Homo sapiens: one gene and its partners. The protein of the gene in region 1 interacts with the protein of each later gene in a pairwise test. Each region holds a gene or a part of one and is shown in the gene's direction. Other genes may lie near its edges. The genes, in order: HIP1, FAM167A, KLHL36, C1D, SYNCRIP, TRIM23 and TIGAR.

Region 1 (4,547 bases):
CAGGCCTGTGGCTTCCCCGGGGCCAGCAACCCCTACATTGATCTCTAAGGCATTGCCGTCATCTCGGGAACCACACCTTTTCAGGCTTCCTTGCCTCTGTGTCTTGGGCTGTGTCCTGGGTGCCAATCCCATGTAGGTCACCCACCTTCTTTATTATTTTGTAAATATTTGAGCATCAAGCATCTGAAGGTGATGGCTCTGTTCCGGCTGTGGGTAGGAAAGTGATTCCTGTGTCTGACTCTAGGGCACGCACAGCCTGAGTATGATTGTCCTAGAAGGAGGATGTCCTCTAAGCCTGGGATCTCCTGGTTCAAGACACTGTTCTTCTTTTGCAGAATGCAGAGGTGACCAAACAGGTGTCCATGGCCAGACAAGCCCAGGTAGATTTGGAACGAGAGAAAAAAGAGCTGGAGGATTCGTTGGAGCGCATCAGTGACCAGGGCCAGCGGAAGGTGAGTGGGACGAGGAGCACTCGGGAAATGAGGGAGGGGGCTGTTGAGTTGGTGGCGGGGGCTTTGTGGCCTTCTGCTCCATGGGCAGTTCTGTGGGTCGGTTGGCATCACACAGCAGGGAGCACACCATGGTGGCCACACAGAACAGCAAAACACCGTCACCAGTGCATACACGAAGTAATGGAAGGACCCAAGTTGCCTGGGGTTAATCAACAAAGGCTTTCCAAGGATGAGGCTGGTGGAGAGTTTGAGGAAAGGAAAACACATGGGTGGCAGAGAGAGAGGGATGAGCGTTTTTTTTTGTTTGTTTGTTTTGTTTGTTTGTTTTTTGAGACGGCAGTAATCCCAGGACTTTGGGAGGCTGAGGGGGGTGTGGATCACCAAGTCAGGAGTTCGAGACCAGCCTGGCCAATATGGTGAAACCCCATCTCTACTAAAAATACAAAAGTTAGCCAGGTGTGATGGCGTGTGCCCGTAGTCCCAGCTGCTTGGGAGGCTGAGGCACAAGAATCTCTTGAACCTTGGAGGTGGAGGTTGCAGTGAGCTGAGACTGCACCACTGCACTCCAGCCTGGGCAACAACAGCGAGACTCCGTCTCAAAAATAAATAAATAAATAAATAAATAAATAAATAATAAAAAATCCTTCCTTGACATTCCACATTTTCAGTACACTCTGGGGTCTTGCCTCCTCCTCCCACACCCTGCACTTTTTTGGGGGGGTGTAACTTACATACAGTAGAGTTTACAGATCTCTTGTTGATCGCTTGGGACGTTTTTACATTTTTATATTCTTTGTCACTGTCACCCAGATCAGAGTCCCTCTGTTTTTCTTCTCTTTCAGACTCAAGAACAGCTGGAAGTTCTAGAGAGCTTGAAGCAGGAACTTGCCACAAGCCAACGGGAGCTTCAGGTTCTGCAAGGCAGCCTGGAAACTTCTGCCCAGGTAAATACCTCCTTTTTTTTTTTGGAGATAGAGTCTTCTTCTGTCACTCAGGTTGGAATGCAGTGGTGCGATCGCAGCTCACTGCAGCCTCCACCTCCCTGGGCTCAGGTGATCCTCCCCACTTAGCCCCCCGAGTAACTGGGACTACAGGCACACACCCCTACACCTGGCTAGTTTTTGTATTTTCTTTGGTAGAGACGGGGTTTCACTATGTTGCCCAGGCTGGTCTCGAACTCCAGGGCTCAAGTGATCCTCCCACCTCAGCCTCCTAAAGTGCTGGGATTACAGACATGAGCCTTCATGCCCGGCCTCCTTTCTTGCCCCACCCCTGGCTTTGGCGTTGCTGTCATCCACCATCCTTGGCCTGGCCAAGTCAGCCCCCACTGCAATCAGTGTGTCCCCGGGAGGGAATCAGAGTGGCAGGTTAAAGAGCCATCACCTTCCCAGTCCTTGCAACCCGGTGGTGGGTTGGACCTCTGGGAAGTAGGGACTGTTTAACTCAACCAGCGTCTCCCTCTTTCCTTGTGGTCACCTTTGCAGTCAGAAGCAAACTGGGCAGCCGAGTTCGCCGAGCTAGAGAAGGAGCGGGACAGCCTGGTGAGTGGCGCAGCTCATAGGGAGGAGGAATTATCTGCTCTTCGGAAAGAACTGCAGGACACTCAGCTCAAACTGGCCAGCACAGAGGCAAGTCACGGACATGGACACGAGCGAGCACCTGTGAATTCCCACCGAGGGCCTCTGCGCATGCACGGAGGCTGGGAGGACCCCGGGGCTGCTGAGAAGGGGTTTGGGGCCTTGGCCTGATTGTGCAGACATTCTGTAGGTGTAATGCCAGCAGGCCCTGCATTGCCTGCAGAGTCCATGAGGGAAAGCAAACTGCTGTCTTTTTTGTATGAGAAGAGAAGTTTGGCATCTCCTCCCAGCCATGAGAAGCGGGCGCAGTGATCCATCCCCACAGCCTCTGTGGGCAGCCGCACATCGTGGGCAGCCGCACATCCTGTGCACACAGTTAAAGCGCCTTTCTCTGTCTCAGGCTTACTGGCTTGGACCTCATTGGCCATGACTTGAGCTAAGATGCTAAGAGCCCCAGCCAGGTCATCCTGCTCAGGTTCATTATGGAGTCTAGGGCAGACTCTCACCTCCCTGGACCATTTTTAGGAATCTATGTGCCAGCTTGCCAAAGACCAACGAAAAATGCTTCTGGTGGGGTCCAGGAAGGCTGCGGAGCAGGTGATACAAGACGCCCTGAACCAGCTTGAAGAACCTCCTCTCATCAGCTGCGCTGGGTCTGCAGGTACACTTGCAATTGCCCAGCTGGCAGGGGCCAGGTCCTTACAGCCTGAGACTCTGTTGATGTTGAATCTCATGTGAGACTTAGCTCAGGGGCTCTCAGCCCAGCAGCATGTCAGCATTACCTTAGGGGCGCCCAGGCCCCATCCTAGATCAGTTACATGTGGAAACTCTGTGCATTAGTGCCTATACACTAGTATTTTAGTATTTTCTTCCCCCCCCCCGCCCCCCCGCTTTTTGAGATAGGGTCTTACTCTGTTGCTCAGGCTAGAGTGCAGTGCCGTGGCTCACTGCAACCTCCGCTTCCTGGGCTCACACAATCCTCCCCACTCATTCTCCCAAGTAGCTGGGACTACAGGCACGCAACACCACGCCCAGCTAATTTTTGGTTTCGGTTTGTTGCTCAGACTGGTCTTGAAGACCTGGGCTCAGGCTATCCACCCACCTTGGCCTCCCAAAGTGCTGGGATTACAGGCATGAGCCACCATGCCTGGCCTTGGCTAATTTTTTAATTTTTGGTAGAGACGAGGTCTCACTCTATTGCCCAGGATGGTCCCAAACTTCTGAACTCCCACCTTGGCCTCTCAAAGTGCTGGAATTACAGGCATGAGACACCACGCCAGGCCCAGCAGTAGTATTTTCTAAAGCCCCCAGGTGTGATAGCTACTGCTTTAGACAGTGGGTCACACTGATAAAACACCCACCAGGAGCAGACAATTCTGTTTCTCTAAGGAAAAAACTATGGTCTGAATCAAGAGGTGATTACTCATGAACTTCACGTCTAGGCAGGAAGCTTACCCACTAGGTAAGCTCCTCCATTCAGTGCTTAATTAACGAGGATGAAGCCAGCTATGAGAACTTGCTCTGACCTTGCCCTGTGTTCCCTCTCACAGATCACCTCCTCTCCACGGTCACATCCATTTCCAGCTGCATCGAGCAACTGGAGAAAAGCTGGAGCCAGTATCTGGCCTGCCCAGAAGGTAAGAATGGCCAAGGACAGTCTCTGTCGGCTAGTGATGGCCAGACAGGGTTCAGAAGCACCTGAATGCGGGGATAGTGACAGGTCCCTCTGCATCAAGAAAGGCATGTAGGCAACTCATACAAGAAAGGCATGTAGGCAACTCATAAAACGGGAGGAGAGGGTATGAAAGTGTCACCATCAACCAGACCTGAGAAACTTCTCTTTCCAATCCTGGCAGACATCAGTGGACTTCTCCATTCCATAACCCTGCTGGCCCACTTGACCAGCGACGCCATTGCTCATGGTGCCACCACCTGCCTCAGAGCCCCACCTGAGCCTGCCGACTGTGAGTACCGGGGCATGAGGGGCTGTTCATGGACCAGGGGAGCAGGGGGCCTTTAAAAGTCTCTGTTGGGCCGGGCGCAGTGGCTCATGCCTGTAACTCCAGCACTTTGGGAGGCTGAGGCGGGCAGATCACTTGAGGTCGGGAGTTCAAGAACAGCCTGGCCAACATGGCAAAACCCCATCTCTACTAAAGATACAAAAACGATGGGCCAGATGCAATGGTTCACGCCTGTAATCGCCGTAACACTTTGGGAGGACGAGGTGGGCAGATCACCTGAGGTCAGGAGTTCGAGACCAGCCTGGCCAACATGGCGAAACCCCGTCTCTACTAAAAATACAAAAATTAGCCGGGCATGGTGGCGCACCCGTAATCCCAGCTACTTGGGAGGCCGAGGCAGGAGAATCGCTTGAACTCAGGAGGCGGAGTTTGCAGTGAGCCGAGATGGCGCCACTGCACTCCAGCCTGGGCAACAAGAGCGAGACTCCATCTCAAAAAAAAAGTGTCTATTGCCTTGTATCTCCAGCACTGACCGAGGCCTGTAAGCAGTATGGCAG
Region 2 (3,642 bases), on another chromosome or scaffold:
CGGGTTTCTCTGCTTACCAGTTGGGGTGGACTATTCCTTCTCATTCTCCATGGATGCCCCTTGCTAGGGCAGGCTCGTAGCCTAGGGCGGCAGAGGTCGGGCAGCAGGACGTCCTCCATTCACATCCCCACCACAGGCTGGGGCTGAGGAAAACGTCTGGACTGGAAAGTTCTGCTCTCCTTTCTTAAGCGTCTGCGTGCCATGTCGGAGAGGAATCCCAGGACACCGCGAGGTGGTCCTGCTGCCTGTTCAGCTTTTGCCACCCTCATCTTAATTCTTTTCCCTCCTATCCTCACCTCCCTTCTGCCCAGTTCCCCTCACTCCAAACAAGTAATCATGACTATGGCTATTCCCTTCCTTTTTTTTTTTTTTTTTTTTTGGCCGGGATGTTTTTAGGCATTTACAAGTCAGTAACAATCCCTCTTTCTTTCTCCTTTTTCACCCCAAGGGTGGCCTACTCTCCAGGCTGCTGAGAATCTTGCTTTTCTTCATTTAAGCTTTATCTCAAACATCATTCCATATCAATTCATTCTTTTTTATAGCTGCATGTCCCCCAGCACAGATTTTTTTTTTTAAAACACACCCTTAAAATCCAGGGCTTACCACCTGGGTCCAAATCAGATGTCTCCTACTCTGATTCACCCATGTCCACTGCCCACCCCATGGACCTCGGACCACAGAGTCTGGAGGCTGCGGTCTCTTCTTACTGGGAGTTAGATTTCTACCCTGTGTCTGATGTTATGGGGTAGGAGCTGGGGCTTATGCCTCCTCTCTGGAGATGGGGAGGCCACATCAGATCCCATAGCTGAAGTCTTTACCAAACAGGTGCTGCCATGCGGGCACTTAGGTGAACACGAGAAGCCTCGTTCTAGAACAATGAGTCACAGCCTGCTTGTTTAGCCATCCAGCCCAGGTGCCACCGCCTTCTTCCCTCCACAGCTGCAGGTTTATTTGCTTCTGTCTCTGAAGAGGTGAGGTAAGGTGTTGTTCTTGGAGGAAGAAGCTAGGAGCGTAGAGTAAGACCTGGATGTAGAAACGGCTGCTGGAGGACAGGACCTGTGGTGGGTGGAGGTGGTGAGGGGGCAGTGGCACCTGGACGGAGCAGACCCACCTTAGCCTGTGTGGGGTGCGGTTTCCCTGCTGGCTGGCTCTGGGGACCCCCCGGCTGTTGCCACAGAGAGGAAAGACCTGTGGCCTCAGATTCAGACAGCCTGAGCTTGTCCCCACAACTTATTGCTGGGAGATCTCGGTGAGTCATTTAACTTCTAGGATATGTGGGTTCCTCGTGTGTGAAATGAGAATAAAAACAAATCCCTGCAGACTTGCTGGGGGCATTAAATAAGATAGTAGAGGCGGAGTCGTTTTTATATAAATGGTAAAACACTGCACAATTTTTCAATTGCTCATTAACTTCTCTGCATTGAATTAAGGCATTAAAATGATCTCACTTCCGTCCCGGACTAGCCATGAGAAGCGCAGCCACCAGTCCACTCTGAGCCTCAGTTTCCCCTCCTGTGGAGTGGACGTGCCCGCCTCTGAGTGGCAGGGCAGGGATCGGGACTGATGCGGTTCTCATCCCTCCCACAGGGTCTCCAGCCACCTGCCCTTCCCGAGAAGAGAGAGCTCTGGGCCTTCTTCCTGCCAGTCTGGTCTTCGAGTGCGTTCAGGACAGATAGACCTTGGCACAGGCTGCCCCGAGATTCCTGCGACGCTGTCTGTTCCTGCCTTCTGTGGAGCATGGCACCCACAGGCTTCCAGGACGGATCATAGACCCGAGCCTCCAGGAGGGCGCCCTGTGCGGCTCACTGCGCGGTCCCTCTCAGCTCCCCTGCCACCCAGCCTCTGAGGCCGGCTCCTGTCCCGGAAATGCCCTCGGGCACCTGGATGAGGCCATCCCAGAGCGGGACCCAACTGTGCCACCCACCAAGCCTCCCCCTGCGCCCCCCGTGCCCTCGCATGTCCGGCTGCCAGGGCAGACTGTAGAATGTCTGTGCCCCAGATCCACGTGGAAGAAGTGGGTGCAGAAGAGGGGGCGGGAGCAGCCGCACCACCCGATGACCACCTCCGGAGCCTGAAGGCCCTCACCGAGAAACTGAGGCTGGAGACCCGCAGGCCCTCCTACCTGGAATGGCAGGCCAGGCTGGAGGAGCATACCTGGCCCTTCCCGAGGCCGGCTGCGGAGCCACAGGCGAGCTTGGAGGAGGGGGAGCGTGGGGGGCAGGAGCCCTTGCTCCCCCTGAGAGAGGCTGGGCAGCACCCCCCTTCTGCCAGGAGTGCCAGCCAAGGTGCCAGACCCCTGTCCACTGGCAAGCTGGAAGGCTTTCAGAGCATCGATGAAGCTATAGCCTGGCTCAGGAAGGAACTGGTGAGTGGCTGCCCCCAAGAATCCCCAGAAAAGAGGAGATGCCACCGTCTCTCTGTGTCTTTTTCTGTCTCTCTCTGTCTGTCTCCCCACCCCCACCATGTATTTCTTCCCCTCTCTCTAACCCCCAAGTGCACATCTGTAATCTTCCCGTGAGTTGAAGGCAGGCGTCATTTGTATGTGGCTGGGGGGACCCAGGTGTCATCAGCCCCTAATTGCAGACACTAATGAAGGAAGCAGGTGTTTTCTGGCAGAACCTGAACCCATGTTAAGGTGTACCCCCCTCCCCCCAACACCGCTCCCAGTACTGGAGTCTGGCTCCTGGGGTGTGACTGCCCCTCCCTCTGTGCTGGAACCTCCCCACCCTGCTGTCCACCCCAGCTGCCTGCCACTCCGGGGACCACTCTTCTGCACGTGAGCGGCCTCTTCTTGTGCTGGGCGCTGGCCGGGTGGCTCCATGGGGCACAGTGGCTGGGGTGTGGCTGTGCAGGGCGCTGCTGTGAGGAGCTGGCTCGGTGTGGAATGTGCTCGAGTGGTGAGGAGTTGTGGAGCTGCCCAGAGTCGGCGGGATGGGTCCTGCCTGGGGAGAAGCTCGGTGAGGAGGCTCAGAGGAGGAGTTGGCTCAGAAGTCAGGGCGGGGCCAGGTGTGAGGTAAAGGCACATTGTGTTTGAGCTGGGACCGCAGCGCGGTCACTTTCCTGCTCATAGGCAAAGCAGATTCCCAATAGGAGCATCTTTTGTGCATGGTGACTCAGCCTGAGAACAGGGTGGGGGGGCAGAGCTGGGTGCCCTGTCCCCTTCCACCCCCCCAGGGGAGAATCACCCGTGTCTGGCACGACAGCCTCTCAGCAGCACCAGGCATGAAGCTAACCCTACCCCAGCTCTCAACCCCTGCCCCACCCCGTCCCTGAGGCCCAGGTGACACCTGCGAGTCAGGCCACTCTGGCCACAGGTGAGCCAGCCATCAAGGGCAGCTGCCTTCCAGAGCCGGCAGTGGCTCTTGGGTCAGCTGGGTAGGCTGAGGCCTGCTTGGTTTGTTTTGCAGAATCCCGAAAACTAAATCCCCATGAGGCCTGGAATGCCTCAGGGGCTGAGAGAATCCACTGGGGTTTGGAGTGGGGCAGGGCTCAGGGACGCAGGGATCTGACTGATTAATTGGAAGCCTGTTTGCGTTTTAACACTTGATACCGAGAGTGCTTCTCAGAACACACCATTCTATTATATCCGTCTTTAGTAACGAGAGGGTGCATGTGCTGTCGGCTTCGGAGAAGATGAGGCAC
Region 3 (4,547 bases), on another chromosome or scaffold:
AAGCCCGGTGTAGGCCAGCCTGGCTCTCTTTGTGGGTAACCAGGATAAATAGAGATCTCCACGTGTGTGACCTGTGAACTGAAAAGCCAGCCTGGAATGGAAGAGCGGGAGAGCCCGTCCTCTGAACTCAGAAGGAAATGCCAAGTCGGATCTGTCTGGCATCCTCCACAGGCTGTGAGAATGTGGCCTGCTCCTGTAGCATGGACAGAGAAGTTGCTGTTGGAATTGACTGGATGTGGAAATACCACAGGGAAATAAAGTGTCTCAATGACAAACGCATGTATGGCAACAAAAAGAAGATTTGAAAGGGAAGAAAAAAATAAAACCCACTGCTGTAGGACACATGTTAAGAAGCAACTTTTAAGAATTCAGAGCCTGGGCAGTTTAGGGAGACGTTGTCCCTGCAAATTATAAAAATCAGACAGGCGTGGTAGCGTGTGCCTGTAGTCCCAGTTACTCAGGAGGCTAAGGCGGAAGAATCACTTGAGCCCAGGAGGTCAAGGGCGACATAGTGAGACCTCGTCTCTACAAAAAAATTTTAAAATTAGCCAGGCATGGTGGCACACACCCGTAGTCCCAGCTACTCAGGAGGCTGAGGTGGGAGAATCACTTGAGCCCAGGAGGTCAAGGGTGCAGTGAGCCGAGATTGTGCCACTGCACTCCAGCCTGGGCAACAGAGTGAGACCCTGTCTCAAAAAAAAAAAAAAAAAAGTCGAACCACATAGCTGCTAATACCTAATAGCCCTCGGTCAGTTTTCTTCCTCCAACCACATTTCCCCTCTTCAGGCTAGTGCCCAGCCAGTTCTTCACCTCAGTCACCCTGGAATAGACCAGCTATCTATGTGATAGTTTTCAGTTACCTGTTTCTCCCTATGTTGAATTCATTTATTTATTTATTTAGAGACAGGGTTTCTTTTTGTCGTCCAGGCTGGAGTGCAGTGGCACAATCATGGCTCACTGCAGCCTCAAGCTCCTGGGCTTGAGCGATCCTCCTGCCTCAGCCTCCTGAGCAGCTGGGACTACAGGCGAATGCCACCACGCCCACCTAATTTTTAAATATTTTGTTAAGACAGGAATCTCGCTATGTTGCCCAGGTTGGTCTCGAACTTCCTGGCCTCAAGTGATTCTCCCGTCTCAGTCTCACAAAGCATTGAGATTACAGGCATGAGCCACCATGCCTGGCTTGAATTGTTGTGTTGTTTGGTTTTGGGTTTTTTTGGTTTGTTTTTTGTTTTTTCTTGTTTGTTTTGTTTTGTTTGTTTGTTTTTTGTTTTTTGAGACGGAGTTCTTGCTCTGTCTCCCAGGCTGGAGTGTAGTGGTGTGCTCTTGGCTCACTGCAACCTCCATCTCCTGGGTTCAAGCAATTCTCCTGCCTCAGCCTCCTGAGTAGCTAGGATTACAGGCACACGCCACCATGCCTGGCTAAATTTTGTATTTTTAGTAGAGACAGGGTTTCACCATGTTGGCCAGGCTGCTCTCAAACTCCAGTAGCCGGGCTGTCGTCCCAGCTACTCAGGAGGCTGAGGCAGGAGAATCACTTGAACCCGGGAGGCAGAGGTTGCAGTGAGCTGAGGTTGTGCCACTGCACTCCAGCCTGGGCGACAGAGCAAGGCTCTGTGTCAAAAAAAAAAAAAGAAAGAAAGAAAGAAAGAAGTTATATTAATAAGAGAAGGAAAAAAAAAACCACGATACACAGGCATACTCAGAAACACCTGTACTTCCTGCAGTGCCCTCTGATGCAGCATTTTATTTCCTGTTTTCTTCAGTTTCATTTTGTTGAAAATGCTGGTCAGGACCCACTGGGTTGGACCAGGGCCGAGCAGGCTGCTGCGCCGTTTCTAATGTGTCTTCTCTGTCCAGGTATACCGCTGGGCCGACCACTCAAGCACGGTGCTGCAGCGGCTGAACGAGCAGCGTCTCCGCGGGCTCTTCTGCGACGTCGTCCTGGTGGCCGATGAGCAGCGTGTGCCAGCCCATCGCAACCTGCTGGCCGTGTGCAGCGACTACTTCAACTCCATGTTCACCATCGGCATGCGGGAAGCTTTCCAGAAGGAGGTGGAGCTGATCGGCGCCTCCTACATTGGGCTCAAGGCCGTGGTGGACTTCCTGTACGGCGGGGAGCTGGTGCTGGATGGCGGCAACATTGACTACGTCCTGGAGACGGCTCACCTGCTGCAGATCTGGACGGTGGTAGACTTCTGCTGTGAGTACCTGGAGCAGGAGGTGAGCGAGGACAACTACCTGTACCTGCAGGAGCTGGCCTCCATCTACAGCCTCAAGCGGCTTGATGCCTTCATCGATGGCTTCATCCTGAACCACTTCGGCACGCTGTCCTTTACGCCCGACTTCCTGCAGAACGTCTCCATGCAGAAGCTGTGTGTCTACCTGAGCAGCAGCGAGGTGCAGCGGGAGTGTGAGCACGACCTCCTGCAGGCCGCCCTGCAGTGGCTGACGCAGCAGCCCGAGCGCGAGGCCCACGCCCGCCAGGTGCTGGAGAACATCCACTTCCCGCTCATCCCCAAGAACGACCTGCTGCACCGCGTCAAGCCGGCCGTGTGCTCGCTGCTGCCCAAGGAGGCCAACTGCGAGGGCTTCATCGAGGAGGCCGTGCGCTACCACAACAACCTGGCGGCCCAGCCCGTCATGCAGACCAAGCGCACGGCGCTGCGCACCAACCAGGAGCGCCTGCTGTTTGTGGGCGGCGAGGTCTCCGAGCGGTGTCTGGAGCTCAGTGACGACACCTGCTACCTGGACGCCAAGAGCGAGCAGTGGGTCAAAGAGACGCCGCTGCCCGCCCGGCGGAGCCACCACTGTGTCGCGGTGCTGGGGGGCTTCATCTTCATCGCCGGCGGCAGCTTCTCACGGGACAACGGAGGGGATGCGGCCTCCAATCTTCTTTATAGGTATGACCCCCGCTGTAAACAGTGGATCAAGGTGAGATTAAAGCCAGATTATTTCTTTTCTCTTGAGGACTCTCTCGGTTTCCTTAACCTAGCCTTGACTTTCCTTACCTCTCTGGGGCCTTGACAACTATCCTGCTTCTGAATGAGGTGTGATGATAAAGTGACGAGCAGAATACCCCGGGGCCTACATCCTGGACAGGGAGAGGGAGAGCCGACCCACCCCTTCGAGGGGTCCGTCATCGTTCAGAGCAGCACTGCCTGGCGGGGCTTTCTGTGCAGATGGAAGGGTCTGTCTGTACTTCCCGATACGGTAGCCACAGCCGCATGTGGCGACTGAGCACTTGAAATGTGGCCAGTGCGACTGAAGAAGTCAATTTTCAATTTTATTTCACTTTAACCGATTGACGTGTAAGTGTATGTGGCCGCACGAGGCGTGGCTACCCTATTGGACAGTAGCATGGGTCTAGATGTTTGATCCATGGTTCAACATCCCCAGGTCCTGGAGTCTCTGTGGGGCTCCTCTGGAAGCATTTTGGGAGATAGTTTAAGGAGACCACTAGTGCTCACGCCTGGCCCTTGGGCATGTATTGTGTCCTGATTCTGGGAAGAGCGTGGGCCTTGATGTCAGACCTGAGGTCTCATCCCAGCCTGGCTAAGTCATAGCTAGGAAATTTCAGATTCTTGTCCTCTCCACATTTTGGATTCCCCTTCTGGGAATACGTGGGGGACAGGGAGTGCAGTAGCTCATGTTGACTGGCAAGCCCCTGGCGTAGGGAAGGTGTCTCCTTTCTGCTGGGAGCGCTCTCCAGCCACTCGGTCCCCGGGACAGTCCATCTCAGCCTCTATACTCACACCTCAGCGTCGCGCCCAGCTCAGTGCTGTTCTCAGCTCAAAACCCAGTCAGAATGGACTCCAGCTGACCTTTTGATTTTACTCTCAGAAATCTGAGACTGCCCTCCAAGGTCGAAGTGTCACCACTGGAAAGGGTCCCTGGCTTTGGAGCCTCCTCCCGAAGCCTGGCAGCAGTGGCAGCAGTGTGTTTGCCTTGGATTCGTTTAAAAAAAGAAAAAAAAAAGTTGGCTCTTCTACTTTTTGTGTGTGTGTGTGTGAGACAGAGTTGTTCTGTCACCCAAGCTGGAGTGCAGTGGCACGATCTCGGCTAATTGCAACCTCTGCCTCCCAGGTTCAAACAATTCTGGCGCCTCAACCTACTGAGTAGCTGGAATTACAGGCGCCTGCCACCACGCCCGGCTAATTTTTGTATTTTCAGTAGAGACGGGGTTTCACCATGTTGGCCAGGCTGGTCTCGAACTCCGTGACCTCAGGTAATCCACCCACCTTGGCTTCCCAAAGTGCCAGGATTACAGGCGTGAGCCACCGCGCCCAGCCTCTTCTGTTTAATTTCCTGTCGAATGCCACGTCCTGCTCTGTTAACACGGAGTGGCAGAGCAGCACTAACTTTACAAATCTGATGTGGGGAGAGGAAAGATGAATTTTTATTTCATAAAGCCACTAGATCAGCAATTCTGACCCCTGTGACCACAGAGTTCCCATCCACGCGGCTAACGACATGACCAGAGAAGTTCGGGGGTTCAGAGCATCTCCATCCCCCTTTTGGGGACTCAGAGCGTCTCCATCCCACTT
Region 4 (4,547 bases), on another chromosome or scaffold:
TAGGTGGGCATATCATAATTTATTTAACCAGGTTCTAATAATGGATGTGTGGGTTGTTCTGTTTTAAAGTTTACTGTTTTAAAGATCATTGCAGTGGAAGTCCTTAAACATTATCTTGCGCTAAAATATACTTTGAGAAGTAAAATTGCTAGGTCAAAGCATGTGTACATATGTGATTTTGAAGCATAGTGCAGATTACCTCACAAAAATGCTAAACTAATTTATACCCTGACTAATAGTGAATGGGAGGCTGTTCTCAGCTCACCTTTGTCCATTTTAGTACTATTAATCTTTTTAATTTTTCCCTATTTGACAGATGAAAATGGCATCATATTTTAGCGATTTATGTTTCCTTAATTATCAGTAAGGCTGAGTAGCTTTCTTTATGCTTATTGGTCATCTGGATTATTTGTGAACTGTTGATTTTCTTGTTTATTTTTCTTTTGGGTTGTGTGTACTTTTTTTGTTATTGTTAAATTGATTCATAGAGGCTTTAAAAAAATCTTTGTGTTGCATATGTCTTTTTTTAGTTTTTTATTTGACATTAGTCTTGGGTGTTTGTTTATTTGTTTATTTTGCCTGCATTTTTAAGGGCCAGGTAAAAATACAAGAAATTAGGATTTTTTTTTTAAAGAAGGGAATTTGCTGGGCTCGATGGCTCACACCTGTAATCTCAGCACTTTGGGAGGCTGAGGTGGGCAGATCACAAGGTCAGGATTTCGAGACAGCCTGGCCAACATGGTGAAACCCCGTCTCTCCTAAAAAAATACAAAAATTAGCTGGGCATGGTGGCACGCACCTGTAAAAGGCAGGAGAATTGCTTGAACTTGGGAGGCAGAGGTTGCGTTGAGCTGAGATTGAGCCACTGCACTCCAGCTTGGGCGAGACAGCAAGACTCTGTCTCAAAAGGATTTTTGTGATACTCTTGAAATAAATAGACACTCTAGAATGTGAGCCTTTTGTTGGAAATGTTAGTAATACAAACTTCATTTGAGACTATATGTTCAGCAACTATCACAGATGTAGTGAGCACCCAGTAACCTTCCTCTCCCTCACTCCAGTTATATTTGGAATTGAAATGAGATGTAATGGAGCTGCTTAAATATTCTAGACGACACCTTCTCTTTAGTTATTCTCCTATATATGAACGGAGTTGTATTCTAAAAGCTAGTTTGTGAGTTAGCCATCTAATTTCACTATAGAAATAATGTACATAGGTTCTTATCTTTGCTCTCAAAGTTGTAATAATTTGTGGAGGCTACTTTTTTTTTAAGCAAATTCAAAATGTTACATAATTTTACCCCTCTATACTTCAGTGTGCATCCTCAAAAGACAGGGAAATTTTCTTATATAACTGTATTGCTATTATCATAGATGACAGAATTATCAATAATTTGTTGGTGTCATCTAGTACTTTGTCCATGTTCAGATTTCTTTCTCACAGAACTATCTTTTTCCACTTGGTTTATTTGAATCAAGATCCAAACAAGGTCTGTGTATTTCATTTGGTTGTTACATCTCTTAAATCTCTTCTTCCTCTGTCTTTCTTCCCCCACTTTTTTTTTTTTGCTTCATGCTGTTGACTTGTTATGGAAACCTGGTCAGTTATCCTGTAGAGTACTGTATTTCTCACTCCATATTTGTTTGCTTTCTTGTGGTGTTAATTTGTTCCTCTATCCTTTGGATTTCCTATAAAATGGAAGTTAGCTCTGTAGGCTTAATTGTTCAGATTCAGCTTTTTTGGGAGTTGGGAATGCTTTGCAGATGGTGCTGTGTATGTTATATTGCCTCACATCAGGAGGTTCATAATATGTGCATTTCACCTACTTTTAGTGATCTGTTGGTGGTCATTGACTAAACCTACAATTTCATTAGGCGTTGCAAAGTCGTGATTCTTTTTTAAGTTGTCATTTCTTCTACATTTGTTAGCTAGAATTTGAAGTCTAGTTCTGTTACTTGGGAACCTGATAATCAAAATAAGCTTGTTGTGGGAAAGTATTGTCAGAGCAACAATATTTTTGATGCTAGGAATGCATCTTAGTGCAATAGTCTTTTTTTTTTTTTTAAAAAAAAAAGAAAGGATGTGGGCCTTGCTCTGTTGCCCAGGCTGGAGTGCAGTAGTGTAATCATAACTTACTGCAGCCTCGAACTCCTAGACTCAAGTGATTCTCTCACCTCAGCCTCCTGAGTAGCTAGGACTACTGGTGTATGCCATCACGCCCAGCTAATTAAAAATATTTTTTTTTTTTTTAGAGATGGGTCTGTCTGTGTTTCCCAGGTTGATCTTGAACTCCTGGGCTCAAGTGATCCTCCTGTCAGTCTCCCAAAGTGTTGGAATTACAGATGTGAGCCATGGTGCCTGGCTGTGATTGTCTTTTTAATGTTTCAACTTGGTTTGGCTGTAGCCCCCAGATATTTAGTCAAACATGAATGTAGGTGTTGCTGTGAAAGTATTTTGAAGCTATGATTAAAATCCATAATCAATTAAGTAAGGGAGATTATTCTAGATCATCTGGGTGGGCCTGATTCAATCAGTTGAAAGGCTTTAGAAGCAGAGCTGAGGTTTTCCTTCCAAAAAAGAAGAAATTCCACTTGTAGACAGCAGTTTCAGCTAGTAGCCAAGAGTTCCAGCATGAGTTCCTCCCTTCATAGCCTGCCCTATGTAAACCAGTTTCTTGCCATAACTCTCTTAATATATATCTCCTACTGGTTCTGCTTCTCTAGTTGAAACCTGACTGGTGCAAAGGGTAACTCCTCTGATGCTTCTGTTCTCCAGCTAAATGGGATGGGAAGCGGTAGTAAGGGTCAGAGAACTTGCATTGTTTAGGGTAGCCATATAATTTTTTGTTCAAACTGGGACTTCTGAGAAAGAAAGGAGCTGAGTTGATGGCAAGCTGAAACAACAGGCGTAAGGTGGAACTGTCTTGGGCAAATTGAGAGTTATAGTCACCTTGTGTGTCAGCCACTGGGGATACAACATGAATATGACACAGCCCCTCAAGGAGCATGTAGTCAAAGGAGAAGTCAAGTAAATAAAAATACATTAAGAGATAGTGTTTTAAGTGACATGACAGCTTATAGTTGTTGTATTTGTCCAGACAGAGAGCATAGAAGGAGAGCATGCAGAGAAGTCTTCACTGGCCGAACTGGAACCTATTTTTTACCTCCAAAGATAAGCAGCGTTTGAAAAAAGTGGAGTTGGAAGGGCATTTCAGGCTTAGAGAATCACACAGGTGAAAGTTGAGAGTGAGAGAGCACGGCACATTTGGAAAACTGCCATCATGGCCACAGCTCTAGGATTGGAAGAGGGGAGCCATGAAAGATGAGGTTAGGCAGACAAGCAAGGGCCACATCATAATGGGCCTTGCATCTACGCTGAGGGGTTTGGAACTGTCTTCCATGTGGGAGGGAACTGTTGCAGAATTTTAAACAGAGGAGTACCATGACCAGACTGTTTAAAGCATATTTTGTAATATTCTAAAACTGGGAGTGGAGAAAAATTGATAATAGGGACACTACTCAAAGGCTGTTGAAATAATCTAGTCAGTGAGAATAGAGGAAAGCTTGTGGTGTAAGGAGATTAAGGGAGCCATATTGACAGGACTGATTGGATTTGGGGTGCCTCCCAGGTTTCTGCCTGGATTGGCCACCCTGAAGTGGAGAATTAAAGGAAAGAGGTAGCTGATGACTTCAGTTCTGTATGTGATGCTATGCACTCTTGTTTTCTCCTATCGGTACTTTGGCTTCTGTATAACCAGTGAGAGGAAGGACTGAGTGGCAGTAACATCTGTTAGGGTTACTGGGCAGCATCCCCGCAACCCAGGTACTCAGTCTCAGCCACACCTTACTGAGTGGTGAAGAGAAGCAAGTTTTCTCATGCCCTCTCCGTCTGTCTCTACCTCTGCAGCCAGTGTTTTAGAAGGAGTATGTGGAAGGGCAAGGAGTACCTATAGAACCCCGGAGGAGGGTGAGGAGCAGAGCTGGGTGAGTTCTTTTCTTCTTTGGAAATTTTAACATGTACAACTTTAGGCATGTTCTTTAACTTCTTTTGGCTCAGTTTATTCATCTGTGAGGTTTAGATGAACAAGTGCATGTGGAATGCTTAGAGTAGTGCCTGGCACATAATCAGTGCTATTCAAGAGTTTGCTGCTGATATCGTAGAGTCACTGCTTGATCCTGGGGTCAGAGTAGCTAAGGGGACAGAGGGAAATTTCTGCGCTTTTTCTGTGGAAGGAATAAATACTCAGCAGCTGCCTATAATAAAGTGTTAGTAGAAATCAATTGAATTAGGAGGAATTTCTCATAATAGAAGAGCCTTTATTTTTTAGTCCCCCTTGTCTTTATTTTTTTAGTTAGGGAAAAGGCAAGTGGCTCAGTTCAGATTTAATGAGGGCAGTTATTCTTACTTACTACCATGCTTTCAGTGTTCACCCTAACCTGTTCTAACAATAAATAACTGCTTGTTTATTGGGGCTTAGGGACAGGGAATAATTGCAGGAAAAATCTCTACTATGTTCTTCTGAAGAAAGGAAATATTTTCTCGTAGG
Region 5 (4,547 bases), on another chromosome or scaffold:
GGCGGCATGGTAGAATTCCTAGCAATTGGTTCTTATAAACATCTGGCTTAGTGACGTTTTTGTGTGTTTGTTTAAATTTATAGGAATGTGAAAAGATTAAGAAAAGTAACTGTGGTAAGAGCTCTCATACTTCCTGGCCATACCTGAGCCATCTCTTTTTCTTAAATAATTCACAAAAGACATTGTGATACATTTCTAGTTGATGAAACAAAAGATTTTATGGTGAGTGGCAATGTTTGATTTAAAAATACCAGATGTTAGGTAAGGACCTGGTAATCTTTCCAACTTTTTTAAAAAGGAAATTTTTCTTTTTTCTTTTCTTTTTTTTTTGAGACCAAGTTTCTCTCTCTTGCCCAGGCTGAAGTGGCATGATTTCGGCTCACTGCAACCTCCACCCCTCAGGTTCAAGTGATTCTCCTGCCTCAGCCTCCCGAGTAGCTAGGATTATAGGCGCCTGCCACCACGCTCAGGCTAATTTTTATATTTTTAGTAGAGATGGGGTTTCGCCATGTTGGCCAGGCTGGTCTCGAACTCCTGACCTCCGGTGATCCACTCGCTTCGGCCTCCCAAAGTCCTGGGATTTTAGACGTGAGCCACCACGCCTGGCTAGAAAGAAATTTTAATATTTTAAATTATAGTTTATGTAAGTCCTTTAAACTAGTTTTATTAAGTTCTGTGACAGAAGTGGTTTCTGCATTTTATAGTTGAAGAGTTGGGGGCTAATTTAAACCCATAGAATGTATCAAGCAACACGACTGGGGAGAACTTTTGTACAAGATAGCTCACTATGCCATGTTTGTTAAATTTGCTTTATCTGGCTTACGTATCCTGTGGGTAATTCCAGACAAACTTAAAATCTTCAGACTCATTTTTTTTTCCCTCCCTCCTGAGTTTTACCCCTTCCTTTACCATGAGGTTTATCACTTTAAGCAAGCCTTAAAGAGAAAAATAAAACTCATAAGTCTTCCTTTTCTTTTTTTTTTTTTTTTTTTTTTTGGGAGATAGAATCTCACTCTGTCACCTAGACAGCAGGAGTGCCATGGTGCGATCTTGGCTCACTGCAACCTCCGCCTCCCAGGTTCAAGCGATTCTCCTGCCTCAGCCTCTCCGGTAGCTGGGATTACAGGCATTTATCACCACACCTGGCTAAATTTTGTATTTTTAGTAGAGACAGGGTTTCACCATGTTGGCCAGGCTGGTCATGAACTCTTGACCTCAGAAGATATGCCTGCCTCAGCCCCGCAAAGTGCTGGGATTGCAGACGTGTGCCACTGCACCCGGCCAAGTCTTCCTTTTCTATGTTGTGTGAATATTCCCCACTGGTTTGCATAATTGAGTATGATGGAAGTTAAACAGTACAAAATTATGTTACTTGAAAGAATATAAGCCTTTACAAAGAGAATTTGAGAATTTAGATATTTTCAAATCATGTCTGATTTTTCTCTTCATAAAAGAGTGCTTTGTGTTTTAGAGGGAATTCAGATTTACTGGTAACCTTTGAGTTGTCAAAATTTTAGTTTCAGCAGTTCAATTTGAGGGGAGGGGCATTTTAGAGCTCTAGAAAGAGGTACCTTAGAAATCCTTTAGTTTGTTTTTATGATTTGTTTTTTGAGACAAAGTCTCTGTCACCCACGCTGGAGTGTGTGGGCATGATCTTGGCTCACTGTAATCTCTGCCTCCTGGGCTCAGGCAATTCTCCTGCCTCAGCCACCCGAGTAGCTGGGATAATAGGCGCGTACCACCACACCTGACTAATTTTTGTATATTTGGTAGAGATGGGGTTATGTTGGCCAGGCCGGTCTTGAACTCCAGACCTCAAGTAATCTGCCCGCCTTGGCCTCCCAAAGTGCTGGGATGACAGGCATGAGCCACTGTGCCTGGCAGGTTGGTCTTGAACTCATGGTCTCAAGCAGTCCTCCTACCTCGGCTTCCCAAAGTGCAAGGATTACTGGCATGAGCCACCTTGCCTGTCCCAAAATCCTTTAATCTCCTATAAAAGAGTAGAATATTTTTGCCAAGTAGCAATAAAGTAGCAGTAAGTGAAAATGCAGAATGATCCAGTAAGCAATGAGGTATCATAACTACAGAAAGCTAATACAGTGGGCTCTCTCTACTGTGGGTCCTGCATTCACAGTTTCAGCTAGCTGAGGATTGAAGATACTCCCAAAAAACCCAATAAAAAAAAAAAACAACACACCAGTGTATGAGAGAATGTTCGTAGGTTATGTGCAAACACTATGCTATTTAAGAGAGTTGAGCATTCATGGATTTTGGTATGGGTTCCTGGAATCAGTCCCCCGTATGTGCTGAGGGACCACTGCAGAATTTAGCTAGTGGTGTCATCCATTTTTTAACATTATGAAAAAGAATCATTAAACTGACATCGTAGGTTACCTAATTCTTGCCGTCAAAATGTACCAATTATGGTAGGTGACCACTATAACTTATTTATAGATGTTTTCCAGAAACTTTACAGTAAAGATACATCATTAGAGGAAGATGGTTTATAATCCATTAGTAACAGTGATTTCGAGTGCCAGTAGACACTAGGAAATGTTTCCATTTGTACAATTGCCTTGTTTAATAAATACGTTAAATTATAAAATTGCATTGCTGTAGGTTGCTTAGAATATAGTCTTATTAATATAGTTTTTAAATATAATGGAGAAACTTCTATAGATAAGCATTCTTTTTGATTGGCGTAGGAATTAACCCTTGTCCTAAAACTTTCTACATTTCTTTCTGGGTTTCTCTGTTGTGATTTGAATCCTTTTCTGGGGGCATAATTATTTTGTACTATCTAATTAATAGGAGACTTTGCATTTTGTTGTCTTTTAAAAGATACTTTTGGCAGGGTGTGGTTGCTCACACCTGTAGTCCCAGCACTTTGGTAGGCTGAGGTGCAAGGATTGATTGAAACCAGCCTGGGAAACATAGACCCCATCTGTACCAAAAAGTAACAGATTAGCCAGGCAGCGTGCACCTGTGGTCCCAGGAGGTCAAGGCTGCAATGACCTGTGATCATGCCACTGCACTCCAGCCTGGGCAACAGAGACCCTGTCTCAAAAAACCAAAAAGGGGGAAAAAAAAAATTTCCAATGGTAGGTATTGGTATACAGCCAGTAGGATATATTGGTCATACCATCATTTGCTTTTTTTGACTTTTTAGTAAGTTTTTTTGAAACGGAGTCTCCCTCTGTTGCCCAGGCTGGGGTGCAGTGGTGTGATCTCAACTCACTGCAACCTCTGCCTTCTGGGTTCAAGTGATTCTTCTGTTTCAGCCCCCTGAGTAGCTGGGATTACAGGTGCACACCACCATGCCCTACTGATTTTTGTATTTTTAGTAGAGATGGGGTTTCACCCTGTTGGCCAGGCTGGTCTCAAACTCCTGACCCCAGTCTCGGCCTCGGCTTCCCAAAGTGCTGGGAGTACAGGTGTGAGCCACCACACCCAGCCTACTTTTAAGTAAATTGTTTATTTTATTTATTTATTTATTTATTTATTTATTTGTTTTTGAGATGGAGTCTCACTCTGTTGCCCAGGCTGGAGTGCAGTGGTGCAATCTCGGCTCACTGCAAGCTCTGCCTCCCGGGTTCACGCCATTCTCCTGCCTCAGCCTCCTGAGTAGCTGGTACTACAGGCACCCACCACCACACCCAGCTAATTTTTTTTGTATTTTTTTAGTAGAGACAGGGTTTCACCGTGTTAGCCAGGATGGTCTCGATCTCTTGACCTTGTGATTCACCCGCCTTGGCTTCCCAAAGTGCTGGGATTACAGGTGTGAGCCACCGCGCCCGGCCTTAAGTAAACGGTTTTAATTATTATTACTGTTTTCGGAGACAGGTTGTCACTCTGTTGCCCTTGCTGGAGTGCAGTGTCATGATCAATGCTCACTAACCTTGAACTCCCGGGCTTACGTGATCCTCCTGCCTCAGCTTCCTCAGCAGCTAGGACTATGAGGGCACCACCTTGCTAGGCTAATTTTTAAACTTGTAGAGGTGGTGTCTCACTATGTTGTCCAGGCTAGTCTTGAACTCTTGGCCTCAAGCAGTCTTACTGCCTTGGCTTCCCAAATTGCTGGGATTACAGGCATGAGCCACTGCGCCTGGCCATTGTTTACTTTTTTTTTAAAAGGATGCTTTACTGTGGGTAGGATCTGGTAGATTTGCTTTAGCACAACAAAGAACTAGATTTTAGAGAAAGTGAAGTAATTGAAACATTCTAGAGAAAATACAAATCTCAAGTTTTTTTGGATGTTTTTTGCCACTTTGTATTCATTTGCGGACATGAATACCCCTTTCCTAAGTATGTTCCTCAAGGGCGCATACTTTGGAAGCTATCTCTACTGTGTTACATTTTGAGATTCTACTTGTTACAGTTCTATCCAAAGTGAGTTTTTAATTGAAGTGTCATTCTAGTTATATATAACTAAATGTTGGGAAAGTGCCTCATGCCTCCTTTGCATTATTTATAGATCAGACAAGATTGAAGCACCTCTGTTTCTCTTTTGAGTGTCTGGAGGAATACCTTAGGTTGAAATAGTTTTA
Region 6 (4,547 bases), on another chromosome or scaffold:
AAAAAAAAAAAACTTCAAAGAGGCATCATGATTCTTCACAAAAAAATAGCTTTCGAGCAGGAAACAAACATTCTGTTTGCTTGCATGTTTTCATAATGCACCAGATTGTTTTGACAATATTTATGTCTGTTAGCTCTTACTTAGGATATGATTTTAGAGATAGTCTCTTGGTTTTTTGTTTAGCAATAAACGGACTTCCAAATTTTAAATTACTTCTTTGCAGTACAGTTTTCTTATAAAGGAGTGAAAGTAAATTAGTATTTTTCTGTGTCATAAAAGTCACTTGTGGCTGATGCTTTTTTGTATTAATAGGGATTTAAATAGTTTTTTATATTATTAGTCAATACTATGAGTTCTTTTCTCTAATTATGGTACATTTTATAGCATTCAGTATTGGAACCAGAAGCTAATCAGATCCGAGCATCAATTTTAGATATGGCTCACTGCATACGGACCTTCACAGAGGAAATCTCAGATTATTCCAGAAAATTAGTTGGAATTGTGCAGCACATTGAAGGAGGAGAACAAATCGTGGAAGATGGAATTGGAATGGCTCACACAGAACATGTATGGATTTTTTTTCTTCTTCACTTTCTCATTCTTTTTTATTTTTCATATTTTCACCTTCTACTAAGTAATTAATGGGCAATTACAATTTGCCAGTATTGCACCAATCATTAGAAAGTTTTTTAAAAGTCCCTGTCTTTCAGGAACTCATTCATCATGGAAAAGAGAGAGTTTGAAATATGGTAACTATTTTATGGAGGAGAAGTACAGGGTGCTTTGGCATCACAAAACAGGGACAATGATTTATGGAGGTCAGAGAAGTCCTTATAGAAGAAATGGTGTTTAAACTGAGATTTGAAGAATTTCAGTCAGGGAAAAGAGCAGAACGGGGAATGAGTTGTCCCAAGAAGGGAACAATATGTTAAAATGTTTGTAAGTGAGGATTGTACATATTGTAGAGACTTAAAGAAGCTCACTGTAGTTAGAGCTTTAAGTATTGAATGGGACATGACAAGAAAAGAGGATATGGAGAGTTCAAAGCCAAATCATGCAGGATCTTGTCAGCCATGTTAAAGAGTTCAGAACTTAGTTTAAGGACAGTGATGAGCCATTGAAGAATTGACTTAGGAATGATATAATCAGATTTTCCTCAAGAAAGGTTGTTTTAAATGTAGAAAATGAATTGGAGGAGCAACAAAATTGGAAGCAGGCAGACCTATTAGGATGTTGTTAAAGTTTTCTAGTTAAAATACTAGAGATGTTTATGGCCTATAATACACTAGGGTAGTGAGAGTGGACACAAGTCAATGGATTTGAGATTTTAAATAAGTAGAATAGATAGGTCTTAGTGATTAATTGTTAATATTGATTGGATAGGTAACTTAGAGGTGATGAGGCATGATCAGATTTTGGGTGTATTTTGAAGTCAGCAGAATTTGCTGAGGGACTAGTGGGCTATGAAAGAGAGCTGATAATGATGACTCCGGTTGTTTTTGCTTCAACATCCTGAAGGATGGAGTTGCCATTTACCAAGACAGAGGCAATTAGGTTTGGGAATAGGGGAGACTGGAGATTAGGCATTCCATTTTGCTTGAGATGTCATTTATAAACAGTTGAATTTCCAATGTCTGTGCATTAGGGGAAAGATCTAGCATGGAGATTTATATTTTGGAATTTAATATAGATGGTATTTAAACAATGTCTCGCTCGGTCACCCAGGCTGGCATGCAGTGTTGTGATCACCACTCACTGCAGCCTTGACTTCTGGGGCTCAATCAATCCTCCCGCCTCAGCCTCCTGAGTAGCTGGGACTACAGGCACATGCCACCACGGCTGGCTAATTTTTTCCATTTTTTGTAGAGACAGAGTTTTGCCATGTTGCCTAGGCTGAAATTTTAAATATTTCACAGGTAAAATCTTTATTAACATTACAGTTGCTTAAAATTTATTTTCATTTTCTTAGGTACCAGGGACTGCAGAGAATGCCCGGTCATGTATTCGAGCTTATTTTTATGATCTACATGAAACTCTGTGTCGTCAAGAAGAAATGGCTCTAAGTGTTGTTGATGCTCATGTTCGTGAAAAATTGATTTGGCTCAGGCAGCAACAAGAAGATATGACTATTTTGTTGTCAGAGGTTTCTGCAGCCTGCCTCCACTGTGAAAAGACTTTGCAGCAGGTAGGTAGTTTAAATGTGGTTAGGGACTTAGTTGTAAGTTTAAGTAGATAATTACCAGAGGTATACATTAGTGTGTTTTATTAATATTTTGTGTCTGCTGTATGCAGTAACTTTGTGCTTAGGAAATGGTCTGCAACCTTGAATTATTTCACTAGTATGGAATTATCAGTGTCGTTCACGTGCCTTTCCCACCATAAGCCATGGGTTCTTGAGGCCTTCTAACTTCTTGCCATTCTTCAGTTATGCCAAATCCTTTTACTCTTCTTTGCCAAGCATATATGTAGTTTTTTTTTTTTTTCTGCTTGGAGTGCATATATCTCTCTTTTCTAATAGTGGAAATCTTCCTTCTCCTTCAAGGTCCAGCTTAAATATTTGCCTTTCTTTGAAGCTTTCTATTTGTTGGTCTTTTTTTGAGTGCCTCTCTACCATGTACTGCCTACGTCTGCTATAATTCAGTGGTTCTTCACTGTTAGAGCAAACGTATGTTTTGTGATGGTTGAGATACCATAAGAAATTTGTTACCCAGTTTGCAGATGACTTACTTTTTTAAATAAATGAGATTCAGTTATTCTAACACAAATGTCAGCTTTACCCATTTGTGTTTTGGATCTGTTTTCATAAGTGTGAGGTATAAGAATAACTATTGCCCTAGGAATTTCAGAAAAGCTGCAGTCTGTGTTATCTTCACTGATATATTGCTAATAATTGTGTTGATTTCAAATCATTGTAGGCTAAGCCTTGTACCATTGTAGAGCTTTTTCTCTTAAATATGTGATTACACTTACATGAGAGTGGCCAGTCTATAGCCTCATCAGTCTTGGGTTATCATTTAGTCCTTACCACACTGAATTGTAACAGTTGATATGTATGCTATTTATTAAGTTGATTTTCAGCTCCAAACCTACTCTTCTATCCTCTATTTTGTGATACTAGGGCTAGAACTCTACAGACCTCATAATTGTGTTGCCAGCTGGGCCCATGTTAGGTACTGTCAAGAGGGGGCATAGTTACTCATGTGAGGAGACCACCCTTCTCGGAGGTTTGAGTTTCAGCTCCATGAGCCACTCCTGCAAGTTTCTAAGTTTTAATAATTCTAACTTCTTCCTTTTATTCCTTTAGCACTGGAAGTGGTAGCTATGTTATTTCATACAATTGCTACCTCCTTAATACCTCAGAGTTCCTTTTAACCTTTTAGCTACCTAGTTAATAACTACACCTAGTTAACAGTTTTTATTTTAAGTTCTTTCTATTCAAGTAATGGTGTGATTTGTGTCTTCCGATTTGACCTTGAATGACACAATATGCCTATGTGTTTTAGATGCTGACCTTGTTCATCTTTGATGCATCTTGTTCATCTTTGTGTCACTAAATTCTTTGCATCTAGATAGAAAGAGCTTAATAAATACATGTTTAACTCATGGCGGATAATGAAGCTACATAGCAAAATCAGAGTGGAGTCATGTCCTAAATCATATTTACTTGAACACTTAAAAGTATTTTCATATTTATTTTATGAAAAAGTTTGTTCATAGTTACTGAAATATTTAAGTATTTTAGAGTTTCTGAAGTGTTGTGCCAAAATGACTGGTATATTAGTCCATTTTCACACTGCTTTACAGATACTACCTGAGACTGGGTAATTTATAAAGGAAAGGGGCTTAATTTACAGGTTTGCATGGCTGGGGAGGCTTCAGGAAAGTTAGACAATCATGGGGGAAGGCGAAGGGGAAGCAAGCACCTTGTTTACAGGACGGCAGGAGAGAAAGAGAGAGCAAAGGAGAGGTGCCACACTTTAAAACCATCAGATGTCATGATTAATCACTATCATGAGAACAGCATGAGGGAAACTGCCCCAATAATCCAATCATGTCCCTCCCTTGACATGTGGGGATTACAATTCGAGATGAGATTTGGGTGAGGACACGGAGCCAAACCATATCAACTGGTAATTTTTAATGATACAGTATTATCTATGTTAATGCAAAAAAATCAAGGTCTTGGATTCATTTTTCATATGGACCTATTAGTTTTGTTCTATTTTATAACTACAGAATACTAACCAATGTTCTTTAAAGTTCCCACTACAGAGAAAATTGAACAGAGGAATGGATGGAACATCACAAATTGATCTTCACTTCTGAGAACATAATTTAATCATCCATCCACTCTAAACAAATTATGCATCATCTAAAGTTCTTGGCATGATACTGGATGCTGAATATTTATTCATTTAGCAAATATGTATTGAGTAGCTAACATATGCCATGTATTTAAAATATATCAGTGAACACAATAAGCAAAAAGCCATAATCTTGTGAAATTAGCATTCTAGCAAGAAGACAGGCAATAAACCATAACCATA
Region 7 (4,547 bases), on another chromosome or scaffold:
CAGTACTACAAAAAATAACTGCTGAAGACCTAGGAACTAAGAGAAGGCAGGGGGTTCTGAAGGTTTGTGCACGTCTCTCCCATTCCATTCAGATTCTCTTTCACTTGCTCATTCAGTCCAGCAATGAATAGACTGACTCTCACGTTTTTGTTCCTGCTGCCAGTAAGAGTAGTTTTGATCAATATATTTCTTTTAACAAAATTATTTGGCTGAAATGTTATTTGCATTATATTTTTTAGTAGGATTTTCCACCTGCAATTCACTTAAGATTGGTTCCTGATCTACACGTTTTAGTTTGGAGTAGTTTGAAATTCTTAGCTCTTCATTAAAGAAGACAATTGCAAATATTAGTTTAGAATAAATTGTTTTTACAGGTTGGATTATGAAGTGTGTTACAAGTTTCACATGATATTTTTAGAGTATCACCACACTTGATTGCTCATTTTTTTCCTCCTCTCAAAAACAGTATAATTTGGCTAATAAGGTTGTCCTTCTCTTTCTATTTTAGTGGAGAAACAAGATTTAACAAGGAGAAAATAATCCAAGGTTGGTATAATCCGATTGTTATTTTAGCTCTCACCCTTGTGTTAATAAGATGTGTGAGTTAAGCAGATTTGGTGGGGTGGGGTAGACTGGGGGCAGCACTCCATTGTGAATTGGGATTACAGAATCAAAGCATCATAACCACAGAAATATGATCAGGGCTGTTAGTAACCAGGAGGAATAAATCTCTCAAGTGAACTGGGTGTGAAGTACAGGTCTCCAAGTTATTCTTTATGTATGGCTTCAAAGTGGCTCTGTCAGCTGATTAATTATATTGGGTCTGGGTGTCTTAAAATATAAATGTCTGGATTTGAAATTATTTTATATTTGGAAACATGAAGTTTACTGACTGGTGTTAATGGTATTTTTTTCTGCTAAGATGGTTATTTTAATTTTAGTAGTAATAAAGGTTTAAAAAAAGAACTATTTTCACATGTGGTCGTTACTTTATTCTGAAGAGATTCTTTCTCCCTTTTTCTGTTAATTTGGACTCAGATCTTTTATTTGCCCTGTGATCCAGCTAGTCTGGCTTTTTAAGAATATCTTGAACTTTTGGCTAGACATGCTATTTCTGTGCTGTGATTATAAAAGCATTTAGTTTTATTTTTTTGGTTAGGGACTTCCGGGGTTTACAAAAACTGATTTTCATATTCCGTGTGCCTGACTCCCTTTTATGGACAATAACTGGTCTGATTCTCAAAGGAACCTTTGTTTTCAGACGAAATATGCCCCACCCAGGTTATCCTCTGGACTGAAGCCTCTTACCACCTGGCCTTTGGTATTGCTCATTTCTCTTTTTCCTAAGACATTGACAATGGAACGTCAAGAAAGTTTTTGTGTTCTTTTCCTGACCTTGTCAGTTGGATGCTTTAGTTCTTTAAGTTACAGCCTTTTGTGTATAAGCATTCAAGGCTCATGTATTTCTTTTTTTTTTTTTTTTTTTTTTGAGTCAGGGTCTCACTGTGCCGCCCAACCTGGAGTGCAGTGGTGCGAACTCGGCTCACTGCAACCTCCGCCTCCCAGGTTCAAGCGATTTCTCATGTCTCAGCCTCCTGAGTAGCTGGGATTACAGGCACGTGCCCCCATGCCCAGCTAATTTTTGTATTTTTGGTAGAGGTGGTGTTTTGCCATGTTGGCCAGGCTGGTCTTGAACTCCTGACCTCAGTTGATATGCCTGCCTTAGCATCCCAAAGTGCTGGAATTACAGGCCTGAGCCGCCGCACGCGGCCTCAAGGCTTATATATTCCTAAGTACTGTTTTTGTTTGCATGCCCGTAGTTTTGACACGTGGTAATGTGGTAAGCATTCAGCACCAAGTATTTTCAATTCCCATTGAGTGACTTCCATTATAAATGCTTTTGTGTTCTGTCAGTATGGTTTATTTGATGATACTTCTTTGAAATGTGTTAATTATGGTCAGTTTTTATAATTCTTCCATTGTATGCTTCAGAAAAATGTATAATCCGTCATTGTTGGGACTGGAATTATATATAAAATAATCAGCCTTCTTGATTTTGTTTTTCAAATCTTACACACTTTATTAGCTTTATAAATGCACTAGTTTGCCTGCATGTCCTAAATATCAATTTATGAGTGCAGTATTTTTAATTTCCTGCTGCAGTGGCCAGTTTGCCCTTTAATACTTGGAATTCTATCCATTTTTGGTTTCTATGTTCTGCTTTTGTATCGACTGAGGTTACTTTATTAGGCTTATACAAGTTTAAATGATTACATCTTCTGAGTAAATTGGATCACTGATTTTCTTATAGTGGTCCCCAAATCCTTAGTGAGACTTTTGTCATAAAGTCTTATTTTTCTGACAGTAATATAGCTACTTGAGCTGTTTTGGGGATGGAATTTCACTGGTATGTATTTTTCCATCTCATTCCTTTCACTCTTTGTGTATACTCATGTTTAAGTGTTATCTCATAAATAGTATGTAGCTAAATTTTGGCTCTTTTGAAAATATATATAAGTTGTCTTTTTTTTTTTTTGAGACAGAGTCTTGCTCTGTCACCCAGGGTGGAGTGCAATGGCGCGATCTCAGCTCACTGCAACCTCTGCCTCCCGGGTTCAAGCAATTCTCCTGCCCGAGACTCCCGAGTAGCTGGGATTACAGGTTCCCGGCACCACACCTGGCTCATTTTTTAAATTTTTATTTATTTATTTATTTTGAGACGGAGTCTCACTCTGTTGCCCAGGCTGGAGTGCAATGGCGTGATCTCGGCTCCTGCAACCTCCACCTCCCGGGTTCAAGCGATTCTCCTGTCTCAGCCTCCTGAGTAGCTGGGATTACAGGTGCACACTACCAGGCTCGGCTAGTTTTTGTATTTTTAGTAGAGACGGGGTTTTACCACATTGGTCAGGCTGGTCTCGAACTAACCTGGTGATCCACCCACCTCGGCCTCCCAAAGTGCTGGGATTGCAGGCGTTAGCCACCGCGCCTGGCCTAATTTTTGTATTTTTAGTAGAGACGGGGTTTCACCATGTTGGCCAGGCAGGTCTCAAACTCCTGACCTCAGGTGACCCATCTGCCTTGGCCTCCCAAAGTGTTGGGATTACAGGCGTGAGCCACCACGCTTGGCCTAGAATCTGTCTTTTAACTGGCAGTAGTGACTGTTTGCCTTTATTCTGGTCACTGATGTGTTTCGATTTTTTTTCTTTGTTTTTTTTTTCCCCTTCTTTTTATAGTCTTTCTTTTTTTAATCTTACCTGCTTTTACTTCTTAAGTTCTTGGTTTTTTTCCTGTTCCACACTTTCTTACTTTCCCCACTACCTTTCAAATGATGTACCATTTCCATTCTTTTCAAGGTTATCTTAAAATTCTTACCCTCATACCTGTCTTAGCCAAGGCTGCTGTAACAGAGTATCATGGACCCAGTGGCTTAAACAATACACAGTTCTAGAGACTGTGAATTCCAAGATCAGGGTGCCAGCAGATCCAGTGTCTGTGGAGGACCTGATTCCTGGTTTGCGGACTGCTGTCTTCTGGTTAATATCCTCACATGGCAGAGAGATAGATTGAGAACACTTATAAGGACACTAATCCTGTTCATGAGGGCTCCACCCTAGGATCTAATCACCTCCCAAAGGCCTGCCTCCTAATACGATCACATTGAGGGTTAGGATGTCAACATTTGAATTTTGGGGGGACACATTTACTCTGACAATACCTAATAAAGTATAATATTAATATCCCCTCTTCCAAAAAATACAAAGAACTTGTCTAGTCGCTTAGTCCTGTCTTTTTTTAATTGCTTGAGGTAGACATTATTATCTTCATTTGTTTAGATGGCATTTAAATTTATGAATATATTTGCAAGTTTCTCTGCTCCTCATTTGTTTTCGTCTCAGACCATTCCTGAAGTACGTTCTTTGAAAAGTCCTCTAGTGTGTGTAGAGCAGCTGGTGGTAAACATAGTGGCTTCAGTCGGTACACACTTGTAACTGATGATTCTCTCAGCACTTGGAAGATAGCATTCTGCAGTTTTGGTTCCATTTTTCCTGTTAAGAGATTTCTATCAGCTAAATGGTGTTCCATGGTAGGAAATATGTCTTTCTCTGTAACTTCCTTTAAACTCTTCAATTTTGATATTCTTTAGTTTCTCATAATATATCTAGGAGGAATTTTTTTTTTAATGTATCCTGCTTGATGTACATGTGTTTTCTTATTCTGTGAAATTCTTAGCTATTTTCTTTTCATATTCCTCTCCTTCATTTTTTCTGTTCTTTTATTTTTTTGAGACGGAGTTTCACTCTTGTTGCCCAGGCTGGAGTGCAGTGGTGTGATCTTGACTCACTGCAACCTCCGCCTCCTGGGCTCAAGTGATTCTCCTGCCTCAGCCTTCCAAGTAGCTGGGATTACAGGCGTGCTCCACCATGCCCAGCTAATTTTGTATTTTTAGTAGAGACAGGATTTCGCCATGTTGGCCAGTCTGACTTTGAACTCCTGACCTCGAGTGATCCACCCCCTTCAGCCTCCCAAAGTGCTGGGATTGCAGGCGT

What was found.
Region 2: the proteins of HIP1 (region 1) and FAM167A interact in binary tests that used the Homo sapiens proteins (3 or more experiments, as listed by UniProt).
Region 3: the proteins of HIP1 (region 1) and KLHL36 interact in binary tests that used the Homo sapiens proteins (3 or more experiments, as listed by UniProt).
Region 4: the proteins of HIP1 (region 1) and C1D interact in binary tests that used the Homo sapiens proteins (3 or more experiments, as listed by UniProt).
Region 5: the proteins of HIP1 (region 1) and SYNCRIP interact in binary tests that used the Homo sapiens proteins (3 or more experiments, as listed by UniProt).
Region 6: the proteins of HIP1 (region 1) and TRIM23 interact in binary tests that used the Homo sapiens proteins (3 or more experiments, as listed by UniProt).
Region 7: the proteins of HIP1 (region 1) and TIGAR interact in binary tests that used the Homo sapiens proteins (3 or more experiments, as listed by UniProt).

Annotation. Positions count from the first base shown.
Region 1 is NC_000007.14:75,553,559-75,558,105, reverse strand, and holds part of HIP1 (huntingtin-interacting protein 1), read left to right. Parts: intron 1-335; coding exon 336-452; intron 453-1,294; coding exon 1,295-1,396; intron 1,397-1,936; coding exon 1,937-2,080; intron 2,081-2,554; coding exon 2,555-2,690; intron 2,691-3,579; coding exon 3,580-3,666; intron 3,667-3,885; coding exon 3,886-3,993; intron 3,994-4,516; coding exon 4,517-4,547. UniProt on the Homo sapiens protein: Plays a role in clathrin-mediated endocytosis and trafficking. Involved in regulating AMPA receptor trafficking in the central nervous system in an NMDA-dependent manner. Regulates presynaptic nerve terminal activity.
Region 2 is NC_000008.11:11,442,754-11,446,395, reverse strand, and holds part of FAM167A (protein FAM167A), read left to right. Parts: intron 1-380; exon of another isoform or gene 381-1,249; intron 1,250-1,587; 5' UTR 1,588-1,984; coding exon 1,985-2,365; intron 2,366-3,642.
Region 3 is NC_000016.10:84,655,011-84,659,557, forward strand, and holds part of KLHL36 (kelch-like protein 36), read left to right. Parts: intron 1-1,860; coding exon 1,861-2,934; intron 2,935-4,547.
Region 4 is NC_000002.12:68,052,498-68,057,044, reverse strand, and holds part of C1D (nuclear nucleic acid-binding protein C1D), read left to right. Parts: intron 1-3,907; exon of another isoform or gene 3,908-3,984; intron 3,985-4,547. UniProt on the Homo sapiens protein: Plays a role in the recruitment of the RNA exosome complex to pre-rRNA to mediate the 3'-5' end processing of the 5.8S rRNA; this function may include MPHOSPH6.
Region 5 is NC_000006.12:85,632,224-85,636,770, reverse strand, and holds part of SYNCRIP (heterogeneous nuclear ribonucleoprotein Q), read left to right. Parts: intron 1-4,547. UniProt on the Homo sapiens protein: Heterogenous nuclear ribonucleoprotein (hnRNP) implicated in mRNA processing mechanisms. Component of the CRD-mediated complex that promotes MYC mRNA stability.
Region 6 is NC_000005.10:65,606,881-65,611,427, reverse strand, and holds part of TRIM23 (E3 ubiquitin-protein ligase TRIM23), read left to right. Parts: intron 1-384; coding exon 385-567; intron 568-1,969; coding exon 1,970-2,185; intron 2,186-4,547.
Region 7 is NC_000012.12:4,330,772-4,335,318, forward strand, and holds part of TIGAR (fructose-2,6-bisphosphatase TIGAR), read left to right. Parts: intron 1-508; coding exon 509-546; intron 547-4,547.